Linked DNA regions of Homo sapiens. The protein of the gene in region 1 purifies or fractionates together with the protein of each later gene. This does not show direct contact. Each region holds a gene or a part of one and is shown on either strand. Other genes may lie near its edges. The genes, in order: UBE3D, CPSF3 and GTPBP2.

What was found.
Region 2: the proteins of UBE3D (region 1) and CPSF3 purify together in Homo sapiens (affinity purification with mass spectrometry; 5 studies listed by BioGRID and IntAct, with this or other methods). This does not show direct contact.
Region 3: the proteins of UBE3D (region 1) and GTPBP2 purify together in Homo sapiens (affinity purification with mass spectrometry; 2 studies listed by BioGRID and IntAct, with this or other methods). This does not show direct contact.

The regions. Positions count from the first base shown.
Region 1 is NC_000006.12:83,059,225-83,062,975, reverse strand, and holds part of UBE3D (E3 ubiquitin-protein ligase E3D), read left to right. Parts: intron 1-3,751. UniProt on the Homo sapiens protein: E3 ubiquitin-protein ligase which accepts ubiquitin from specific E2 ubiquitin-conjugating enzymes, and transfers it to substrates, generally promoting their degradation by the proteasome.
Region 2 is NC_000002.12:9,433,536-9,437,286, forward strand, and holds part of CPSF3 (cleavage and polyadenylation specificity factor subunit 3), read left to right. Parts: intron 1-335; coding exon 336-425; intron 426-2,675; coding exon 2,676-2,826; intron 2,827-3,751. UniProt on the Homo sapiens protein: Component of the cleavage and polyadenylation specificity factor (CPSF) complex that plays a key role in pre-mRNA 3'-end formation, recognizing the AAUAAA signal sequence and interacting with poly(A) polymerase and other factors to bring about cleavage and poly(A) addition.
Region 3 is NC_000006.12:43,622,595-43,626,345, reverse strand, and holds part of GTPBP2 (GTP-binding protein 2), read left to right. Parts: coding exon 1-120; intron 121-481; coding exon 482-590; intron 591-785; coding exon 786-983; intron 984-1,283; coding exon 1,284-1,458; intron 1,459-1,616; coding exon 1,617-1,836; intron 1,837-2,277; coding exon 2,278-2,413; intron 2,414-2,550; coding exon 2,551-2,609; intron 2,610-3,541; coding exon 3,542-3,713; intron 3,714-3,751.

The DNA.
Region 1 (3,751 bases):
GGAGTTATATCGTTTTAGCTTTCACATTTTGATCTGTGATCATGTTGAATTCATTTTTGTGTTTGCAGTGAAGTAGGGATCAAAGTTCTTTTTTTGGTATAAGGATATTCATTTATTCTATCACCATCAGTTGAAAAGGCCATCATTTCTCCCATTAAAATAACTCAGTCTTCATGAGAAATCAGTTGACTATACTGTTTGCATAGTGTGTCCTTTCTACCTTTTTAACCTTTCTTATGTCTTTCTGTATAAAGCAAAAAGCTGTAAAAATACTGTATTTCCCTAAAAATAGCATAAAACTGTATGCTAGTTTTAAAAATATATAGTTGGGTGATTTTAAATCTGTTCTGATGATCTGTGTGTTCTAATTAAAATGTTTAGTATATTTTATAGTTAATTTAAATATTGGTGTTCTTGTTCCTAACTGCTATGGTTTGGATGTGTTTTGTCCCTATGTTTTCTCACTTTGATCCCCAATGTGGCAGTGTTGAGACATAGGGCCTAGTGGGAGGTGCGTGGTTCCTGAGGGCAGATTCTTCTTGAATAGATTAATGCCCTCCCATGGAGATGGTTGGGTGAGTTCTCTCTCAGGAATGGATTAATTCCTGCCATAGTGGGTTGTGAAAAAGAGTCTGGCTTCCAAAGTTTACATTCACAGATGTAAAGATCTATTTATATTAAGATATCTTAGCATTTTGGGATAAACTTTGGCCATTCATTTATTCAATCCACAGATGTTTATTGTGTTCTTACTCTAGTGCCAAAAATTCAAATTCTAAGTGCTGAGAATACAGCCATGAACAGTAACAACAGCAAAGACAAAAACACCTGCCTTTGTTGAGCATAGGGTTTAATGGTGGCAGTAGAGAAGAGGCGGCAGAGAATATACAAAATAAATATATATTTGATAGAAGTGGAGAAAAAAATTAAACAAAAAAGGAATGGGGAGAAAAAAGTTACAATCTTTTATTTCAAATGAGAAACTAACATTTGAGTATTAAACTGTAACTGGTGAGGTGTAGAACTGCCATACCTGGTGGGAGACAATTTCCCTTTGAGAGAAAGTGAGTATGAAAGGGTGCCTAGTTCAGAGAGATGCGGGTGAGTTGGGGGAACACATAGTAAAAGATCTTATGGCAGTGTGCTGGTACATGTTTAATAACCTACTCTCCATGAAAATAAACAAAAAGACAAACTAAGGTCTTGATTTGAAGCATTTGTTGATTTCTTTGGTGTGAATACTTTCACCACGTATGACCTTCAGCCTACCAACTGGGTGAGGTGAGTTGACCTGCTTTGCAGAACTCCTAGAATTTTAACAACAGGTTCTCCAAAGCTTGTAGCAGCAGGGCCTGCTATACCACTGTGCCTTATGGACCATCGAAAGGACTTTAGCTTGTAGTTAGAGTGAGAGATGAAGTCATTGGATAGTTTTAAGCAGTTGTGATACCTGACAGAATACAAGTCAATGGTGAAGAAAGCCTCAAGTATGAAATTATTGTATGAACTATGTCAATCAAACTTAGTCTTAAAGTAGGAATTCTCCTAAAGAACCATCATCCAACACTCACAATTGGGAAATGTGTTGCTACCATCTTACATCATTCATGTTTTACCAGTTGTCTACATAATATCCCTAATAACAGAAGAATCCAGTTCAGAATAAGGCATTGCATTTCACTGTCATGCTTCCTCTGTCTGTTTCAATCTAGAAGAGTTCCTCATTTTCCATTGACTTTCATGGTCCTGACACTTTGCAAGATGATAGTACAATCATTTTGTAGAATATCCTTCCATTTGGATTTGTCTTATGTTTCTTCAAGACAAGATTCAGATTTTGCATCTTTGGCAGGAATATAACAGAAGTGAGGCTTCCTGTCAGGTGGCACATGATTTTGCTTTGTTCCATCAAATTGGTTATGTTAACTTTGAGCACTTAAAGTAAGATAGTGTCTGCCATGCTTCTCTACCTTAAAGTTACTCTTTTTCTCTTCATAATCAGTAATTGGAGAGGTATTCTGAGATTATGTAAATACCCTGTTCCTCATCAGAGTTTCATTTTATTCATTTGTGTGTCAGTAAGGATACATGATTCTTACTGTGGGTTACTCAGTGGGTTTTATTTTTTATTTTATTCAATGGGCTACTTTTTTGTTCATATTATACCAGATGTGGCCAAGGAAGTCCTTTCTGGATGGTTTCTGCGTCTTTTTTGGTAGGTACCTGTCATTCTTTGATTTCTTCATGTTCCAGCAACATGTTCCAGGCATATTTCATTCTTTCCCTGTTACAGCCCTGGATGTAGTCATTTTACTGAGGAACTTTGTTTCTGGTTTGTTCATTTCGTTTTTTAAAGCAGAAAATGGCCTTTACAAACCAAGATCTGGGCACTAAGTGTACTCATCACTGTTGGATGTCGCTTCTCCCAGAACTAGGGTATGTGTGTATGACTTATATATGATGTCTATGTATGGTTGTGCCTACATACCTATGTACATACATGCATTTACAACCATCAATATTACTGTATCTATTTGTAAACATTGAAAACCATGACTTCACACAGGTATTTCTAATTCTGCCCCACCACCATAGGGTCTATTCTAGTTTCCTCGCTTTCTCTTTTTGTAACTCCATTCTCCCACAGTGAGAATCATGGCCCTCATTGTCCTAGTGGCATTTATTTATTTTGTCAGTCTCCCTCTATGTAATTAATAGTCTGCTGGCATCCTTTGCCACCTCCCCCTGCTCATTGTTGACACTCTCCTCACCTGCTTGGACCCTGTTATGGACTGAATGTTTGTGTCCCCTCAAAATGTACATGTTGAAGCCCTAACCCCCAAAGTGATGGTGTTAGGAGATGGGGCTTTGGGAGGTAGTTAGATTTAGATGAGTTCTTGAGGGCGGGGCCCCCCTGATGAGATTAGTGTCCTTATATGAAGAGGAAGAGGCACTGAACTTCCTTACTCTGCCATGTCTGTTGTTTAAGCCACCCATCTATAGTATTTTGTTATAGCAGCTGAGCTAAGACAGGCTCTGAAACCCCATCCTGAGCTGGCCTCACCTCCTGTTCAGATTTCCTCCTCACCTGTCTTGGGATTTGACACCCCTGCTGAGTGGTCCTCCTGGTGGATGCCCTCCACAGCCTGCTTGGTTTCTCATATCCATGCTGGGCCACTGTGTCACCACCCTTGCACTGATGCCTCCCTTGCTTGGCCCTATGGATGCCCTCCACAGTCTGCTTAGTTTCTCAAATCCGTGCTGGGCCACTGTGTCACCACCCTTGCAATGATGCTTCTCTTGCTTGGCCCTATAAAATGACTAAAGTTTTTGGGACTGGGAAGAAATGTGATAAACCAGAGATGGGGTGGCAATGGGGACTTAGGAACCCAGTGGTATCTCTTGCGGCACTTGGAAGTGTCAACTCTACACAGTCTAGTTTGAAAGTCATTGAGGTAGCAAATGGACATTGTGTTATCTTTAGAGCAGTGGTCAGAGAACTATGGCCCATTGGCCAAATCCTACCTGCAGCCTGTTTTGGTACAGCCTGTGAGCTAAGAGTTGGATTTTTCTTCTGTATCTTTTTTTCTTTTAGACAGGTTCTTGATCTGTCGCCCAGGCTGACATGCATTGGCGTGATCATGGCTCACTGCAGCCTCCTGGGCTTAAGTGATCCTCCCCATCTCAGCCTCCTGAGTGGCTAGGACTACAGGTGCGTGCCACTATACCCAGCTGATTTTTTATTTTTTAT
Region 2 (3,751 bases), on another chromosome or scaffold:
CATGTACCTCAGTGCACTCCTTTCCTTGTCTGCATGCCCTTTTTCTCTAAGAAGTTCAGAGCACTTCTCAAGTGGATTAATGTTATATAGGTTATCATTGTGAGATGATACTGGGAATAGATTATTCCCATTTACTAGAGGAAATAATTGAAGCACTGAACCGTTTACTGACTGAACTACACATTTTGAATTGGACACAAGCACTGCATGTAAATTTCATCAGTTTTAGACTTAAAAACTGTAACTGCACTTTTGGATTTCATGAGTTTAATCTATTCACTAGCAAAATGAAGCCTTCCCCAAATCCTAACTTTCTAGTTTTATCTTTTTCACAGCTTTTGTACACTGGTGATTTCTCAAGACAAGAAGATAGGCACTTAATGGCAGCTGAAATTCCTAATATTAAGCCTGATATTCTTATCATTGTAAGTATTAATATACTATATTGTAATCAATGTAATGTAAGCAGATTTTTTTTCTTTTGGAAAATAATACTGTGATCTCACTTTCATAATATGTTATTGGATATAAACTTACCTTTTTTAAAATATAAGAAAACTGGTGGCCGGGCACGGTGGCTCACACCTGTAATCCTAGCGCTTTGGGAGGCTGAGGTGGGCAGATCACTTAAGGCCAGGAGTTAGAGACCACCTTGGCCAACACAGTGAAAACCCATCTCTACTAAAAAAATACAAAAATTAGCTGGGTGTGGTGGTGCAGTTACCTGGGAGGCTGAGGCACAAGAATCACTTGAACCCAGAAGGTGGAGGTTGCAGTGAGCCAAGATCACGCTGCTGCACTCGAGCCTGGGCTACAAAGCAAGACTCAGTCTCAAAAAAAAAAAAAATTGGGGCAGGTGCTTCTTTTTGTAGTGCAGTTTCACTTTCTTGCTGTTAAATGCATTAACTCTAGTCTAATATCAGAGATGCCAGGCTGCCTCTGGGCAGGATCAGCAGGCTGTCTCTGGGCAGGATCATTTTTACTGGCTATGCCCTCTCTCTGTCTTCTAAATATATATTTCTAGATGAGAATATGTAGAAGAACATCTTACGGGTCATTTTAAAATGGTGTGACCTCACTGCCTTTGCCATGGTGACTATCCTCAGGCCCTTAGTCCATGCTAACTTATCGTTTTGTTTATCTTTGTGTGTCATGTCTGCCTACTAGGTTGCAAGTCCCAGGGGAGCAAAAAAAATGAACTGTGTACAGAAGCTCTTTGGGGGCAGCTTGGGATGTGTGTTGCTGACTGTAGAGTCAGGGGTTGGGAGAGAAATCTTGCAAGCTTTTGGTGTATATAAGAACATCAGGTGTATGTGGTTCAAGGAGGAAGAGTTGTCTGTTTCTCCTCCACCACCTACCATGTTCCCCAGCTGCCCAGGCATGTGGGCCAGTACATACTGCTGTCCATAAGCAACATGTGAGCAGATTAGATTGGACTCTGCTCATGGTATGCCCAGCATATAAACTTAATTTAAGGGAAGATTTATTTTTTGAACCCTCAGAAAAAGTAGCTATTTTCATAGTACCATACTTTAGAGCAGTGCTTCAAATTTTAATATGCTTATAATCATCTGATGATATTGCTAAGATACAAATTCTGATTCAGTACATCTGGGCTGGGGTCTGAGATTTTGCGCTTCTGATAAGCTCCCAAGGGATGTCAATCTTCTGGTCAGTGGACCATACCTAGTAAGACTTTAAGGATATTCTTAAACAGAAGTATAAGAAACAACATCTGTTTCTATTTTAAAAGCTTTGACTTATCAGAGGTGGGAGAAATAACCTTTTTCTTCCTAATGGAAAGCAAAATGGTTAAAAAAGGACATGGGAAGAAGATACAGTTTTGGACTATTTCATTTTATAAAAAGTTCTTAGATTTGAATTCTAGCATTCTTTTTTTTTTTTTTTGAGATGGAGTCTCACTCTGGAGTGAGCGACTGCAATGGCATGATCTCGGCTCACTGCAACCACTGCCTCCCAGGTTCAAGTGATTCTCCTGCCTCAGCCTCCTGACTAGCTGGGATTATAAGGCATGCGCCACCATGCCCAGCTAATTTTTGTATTTTTAGTAGAGACGGGGTTTCATCCTGTTGGTCAGACTGGACTCCTGACCTCAGGTGATCCACCCGCCTCGGCCTTCCAAAATGCTGGGATTACAGGCATGAGCCACCATGCCCGGCCTCTTTTTGTTGTTGTTGTTAAATTTTATTTTTTTGAGATGGAGTCTTGCTCTGTCGCCCAGGCTGGAGTGCAATGGTGCGATCTCGGCTCACTGCAACCTCCTCCTCCTGGGTTCAAACAGCTCTCCTGCCTCAGCCTCCGGAGTAGCTGGGATTACAGGCGCCCACCACCACGCCCAGCTTATTTTTGTATTTTTAGTAGAGACAGGGTTTCACCATGTTGGCCAGGCTGGTCTCAAACTGCTGACCTCAGGTGATCCACCCACCTTGGCTTCCCAAAGTGCTGGGATTACAGGTGTGAGCCACCACGCTGGGCCTGAATTCTAGCATTCTTGCTTGCTCTTCCCAATTACTATTATGACAACACATGTTCGAGTAAATGACATGCTAATGGAGAAGTGAATTGCTTAGCCCCTCAGTATTTCATTGATGTTTAACTTTTGAATTCTTGGAGGATCATTGGTCTTAGTCTCACACTTCTAATGTATTATTTAGGAATCTACTTATGGGACCCATATCCATGAGAAACGTGAAGAGCGAGAAGCAAGATTCTGTAACACTGTCCACGATATTGTAAACAGAGGAGGCAGGGGTCTCATTCCTGTCTTTGCTCTTGGAAGGGCTCAGGAGCTGCTCTTGATTCTAGGTATGCCATTTCCTTTGTATTTAGGCGATGATCAAAATCTTGTCATTTTATCAAGATAATAATGTGGTCTTGGATGAGTCATTCCACCGTTCTGGACTTCAGTTTTCTTCATTTAAAAATAGAGATTTGGGGCCGGGCGCGGTGGCTCACGCCTGTAATCCCAGCACTTTGGGAGGCTGAGGTGGGGAGATCACGAGATCAGGAGTTCAAGACCAGCCTGACCAAGATGGTGAAACCCCATCTCTACTAAAAATACAAAAATTAGCCGGGCACAGTGACAGATGCCTGTAATCCCAGCTACTCAGGAGGCTGAGGCAGAGAATTGCTTGAACCTGGGAGGTGGAGGTTGTAGTGAGCCGAGATTGCGCCACTGCACTCCAGCCTGGGCGACAGAGCGAGACTCCATCTCAAAAAATAATAATAATAATAATAATAGGGATTTGGATCTAGGAATAGCCCAGGAAAACAGCAACTCTCATGCACTGCTGTTGGGAATGTGAACTGGCGACCCCTTCCGGTTGCCATCAGAAGTCTTAAAATATGTGTACCCTTTGGCCAGCAGTTCCGCTTCTGGGAAATAAATGAGATGTACAGAAAATTTTGTCAGGAAAGGTATTCATCATTTTAGTATTTTCAAAGAAATATGTGAGTAAATATAGCATTGTAGGAAAAAATTGTGTTACAGATGAGTAATTACATACTTTGCACATAATATATTAAGTCAACCAAAAAAGTAGAGTTCAAAACTATATTTACTCTGGGCTGGACGTGGTGGCTCACGCCTGTAATCCTAGCACTTAGGGAGGCTGAGGTGGGCAGATCACTTGAGGCCAGGAGTTCAAGACCAGCCTGGCCATCATGGTGAAACCTCGTCTCTACCAAAAATAGAAAAATGAGCCAGGTGTGGTGGCACACACCTGTAGTT
Region 3 (3,751 bases), about 39 Mb from region 1:
CCAGGAGGGACGTGGTGAGGCCGTCTACCAGATTGGGGTAGAGGACAATGGGCTGCTGGTGGGGCTGGCTGAGGAGGAAATGCGAGCTTCGCTCAAGACCCTGCACCGGATGGCAGAGAAGTATGCTTCCCCTTCCCCACCAGTTCTCCTTTACCTGACTTGGGGGGACCCATGCATACCCAGTTACCTAGGGCCTGAGGGGCCAAGGTGGGACTTTCCTTCTCTTGACAAAGGGCTGAAGTGGGGAGGGTTAGTGTTTTGGTCCCCTCCTCACTGGACCTAGGCTGTTTTGCTCCTTGAATTAAGATATGTATATTTGTTTTAAAGGGAACTGTGAATGAGGAATAGATTGGAGGGTGGTAGGAAGTGCACTAAGGTATTGGGAGCTCTGTGGGAGGTGCAGGAAGTCTGTAGGTCCAGAGCGAGCCTGGAATAGGAGAAGGACAGGTGAGATATGGCAGCTGTGGCCTTGCTGTGACAGGGTTGGGGCAGACATAACCGTTCTTCGAGAGCGAGAAGTGGATTATGATAGCGACATGCCCCGGAAGATCACCGAGGTGCTAGTACGAAAGGTCCCTGACAACCAACAGGTGAGCACACACCCATCCCTGTCTCTCATGTCCACACTGTGGAAGGGCCCTGTGGTGGCAGGCTGTCTCCTGGCCTGGGATCCTGGGGGCTTCCAGTTCATCACTTGCTCCCTAGGGAGCGTCACTGCCCTTGACCCAGTCTTCAGTTAGAGGGGTGAGAGATTGGAGTTCTTATCTCTGGCAATTCATCCACAGTTCCTAGACCTCCGTGTGGCCGTCCTGGGGAATGTGGACTCTGGGAAGTCAACTCTGCTTGGAGTCCTGACCCAGGGAGAGCTGGACAATGGGCGGGGCCGGGCTCGGCTCAACCTTTTCCGCCACCTGCATGAGATTCAGTCTGGCCGAACCTCCAGCATCAGCTTCGAGATCCTGGGCTTTAACAGCAAGGGAGAGGTGCATGGGATCAATGGGACCCAATGGGGCCAGACTCTGAGGATGGGATGGTAGTAGTGAAGGACATAGGATGGGGGTAGAGTGTGGAGACTTTTTGAAATAGTATAGATGAATGCCCTGAGGGGACTGTGAACAAGCTCTGCCCCTCTTAGGAAATCAATGGGGAATCAACTAAATTAAATAAAAAATGGGGTCAAGATTAAGAGGCAGGGTCACCCAGGGAATGGTTTAGGTCCTGGCAACTCTGAAGGGGTTGGAAGGGCTGGCAGGAGGCACTGAGGGCCCTGGGCCCTGGGCCAGGTGGTGAATTACAGCGACTCACGGACAGCAGAAGAGATCTGTGAGAGCAGCTCCAAGATGATCACCTTCATCGACCTGGCAGGCCACCATAAGTACCTACACACCACCATCTTTGGCCTCACATCATACTGCCCCGACTGCGCCCTGCTCCTCGTCAGTGCCAACACTGGGATTGGTACGAGGCATTAGGGCAGGGACAGGGCTGAAGGGGGGTGCTGACTCTCCTACCCTGGGCCTCAAATCTTGGAGACAGACCAATGCTCCTCTTCTTCCCTCTCCTCCCTCCTGCATTCTCACTCTTCTCTCCTGCTGCTTGCTGTCCTTATGAGGCAGCTGGCACCACAAGGGAACATCTGGGGCTGGCCCTGGCCCTGAAAGTGCCCTTCTTCATCGTGGTCAGCAAGATCGACCTATGTGCCAAGACCACAGTGGAGAGGACAGTACGCCAGCTGGAGCGGGTCCTCAAGCAGCCTGGCTGCCACAAGGTCCCCATGCTGGTCACCTCTGAGGATGATGCCGTCACTGCTGCCCAGCAGTTTGCTCAGTCACCCAAGTAAGCCCACCTTACTCTAAAGCCCTGATCCACTAGGAAGGCTGCCACAGAGCCCAGGGCCCAGAAGCATGATATCCTACTTCTCCAGGGCCAGACCAGTTCTGGCTTAGTTCTGCGGGTGTTTCAGCTTGGGATTGTGGAGGGGCATCTTGCTAAAGGGCTTGACCCTCCTCCCGAGCCAACCTGGAGCACTGCTGATGCCTGGGACCATGGCGATGAAGTGCTATACCAGGCATTTGCTGTTTCCCTTGGGCTCGGATGGGCTTTTTGTGTGACATTGCTCGACTGGCTCACAAGAAGGCCCAGAGTTCCTGAGCCATTTGCAGACAGGAGAGAGGGGCCCCCAGCCAGAACAAAGCTCACCTTTCCATGTATGGGGCTCTGGCCTCTGCCTCCTGTTTGGACTGTCTTCATCTGTCCATTCCATGCCTCCCTCTACAGTGTCACCCCCATCTTCACATTGTCCAGTGTGTCTGGAGAGAGTCTGGACCTCCTCAAAGTCTTTCTGAATATTCTGCCGCCACTCACCAACAGCAAAGAGCAGGAGGAACTCATGCAGCAGCTGACGGAGTTCCAGGTAGTTGACTGCCCAAACATCTAATAGGCTGGGAAACAGGGAGGGGCTGCTTCAGACCAAACCCAGAGTCTGTTTAGAGATTTTGGACCCACCAGCCCTACTTGGCAGGCCATTGATAGCGTTTTCTTTGGCTTCAGGTGGATGAAATCTACACAGTACCAGAGGTGGGGACTGTTGTTGGAGGAACACTTTCCAGGTAAATTGTCTTGCTTGCTACCCTCCCCACTCAGCCCTCACCTATATACTCAAAGACATCCTGGCCCAAAGGAGGAGACCCTGGAATTGAACGGAACCCATTTAAAGGACATGCTTATTTGCAGATTAGGCTTTCACTATCAGAAGAGCTGGAGAACGGTAGTCTGTTGGCTTTGGAGGGAAGAAACAGTATTGCTGCCTATTGGGGAATCTCCAGGCCCCTGAGAGAGAAGTGTGGGTCTTGAGCTCCAGGAAGAAAACTAGAGTGTATTCAACTGACTTCATCTCACACAGGGAAATGAGAGACGTCACTTAAGACTCTTCTTTCTTTCTTTCTTTCTTTTTTTTGAGACAGAGTCTCGCTCTGTTGCCCAGGCTGGATTGCAGTGGAGCGATCTTGGCTCACTGCAACCTCTGCCTCCTGGGTTCCAGCAATTCTCCTGCCTCAGCCTTGAGTAGCTGGAATTACAGGCGCCTACCACCATGCCCGGCTAATTTTTGTATTTTTAGTAGAGATGGGGTCGTCACCATATTGGCCAGGCTGGTCTTGAATTCCTGACCTCAAGTGATCCACCTGCCTCAGCCTCCCCAAGTGCTAGGATTACAGGTGTGAGCCAACGCGGCTGGCCTAAGACTCTGCAAAGCAGAGAATGAAACCCAAGGGGATAACTTGCTCCTTCAGTGATTAGGTGTTCGGTGTTGTTAAACCAGCAAGTGTCTCTCTGTCCACCATCACTGCTGGCCTTTTATGAAATTAGTCTTCTGATTCTGAACTCTGGCAGTGAGCCCTGTTACATCCAAGTCAGAATTTAGGGTTCTTCCCCACTTGAGGGACTCAACCCTAGAAGGGAAGGAATGCTCTGGGTGATCCTAATAGAGAAGTAGGTATGGGGACCTTGGCTGACACTGTGCCACCTGCCCTCTGGGCTGCAGTGGGATTTGCCGTGAGGGGGACCAGCTGGTGGTGGGCCCCACGGATGATGGCTGCTTCCTGGAGCTGAGAGTATGCAGCATCCAGCGCAACCGCTCTGCCTGTCGTGTGCTGCGAGCTGGTCAGGCTGCTACACTGGCGCTTGGGGACTTTGACCGTGCACTGCTTCGCAAGGTGAGGTGGGTGCATGGGTTGGGGAGGGAACGCTAAGA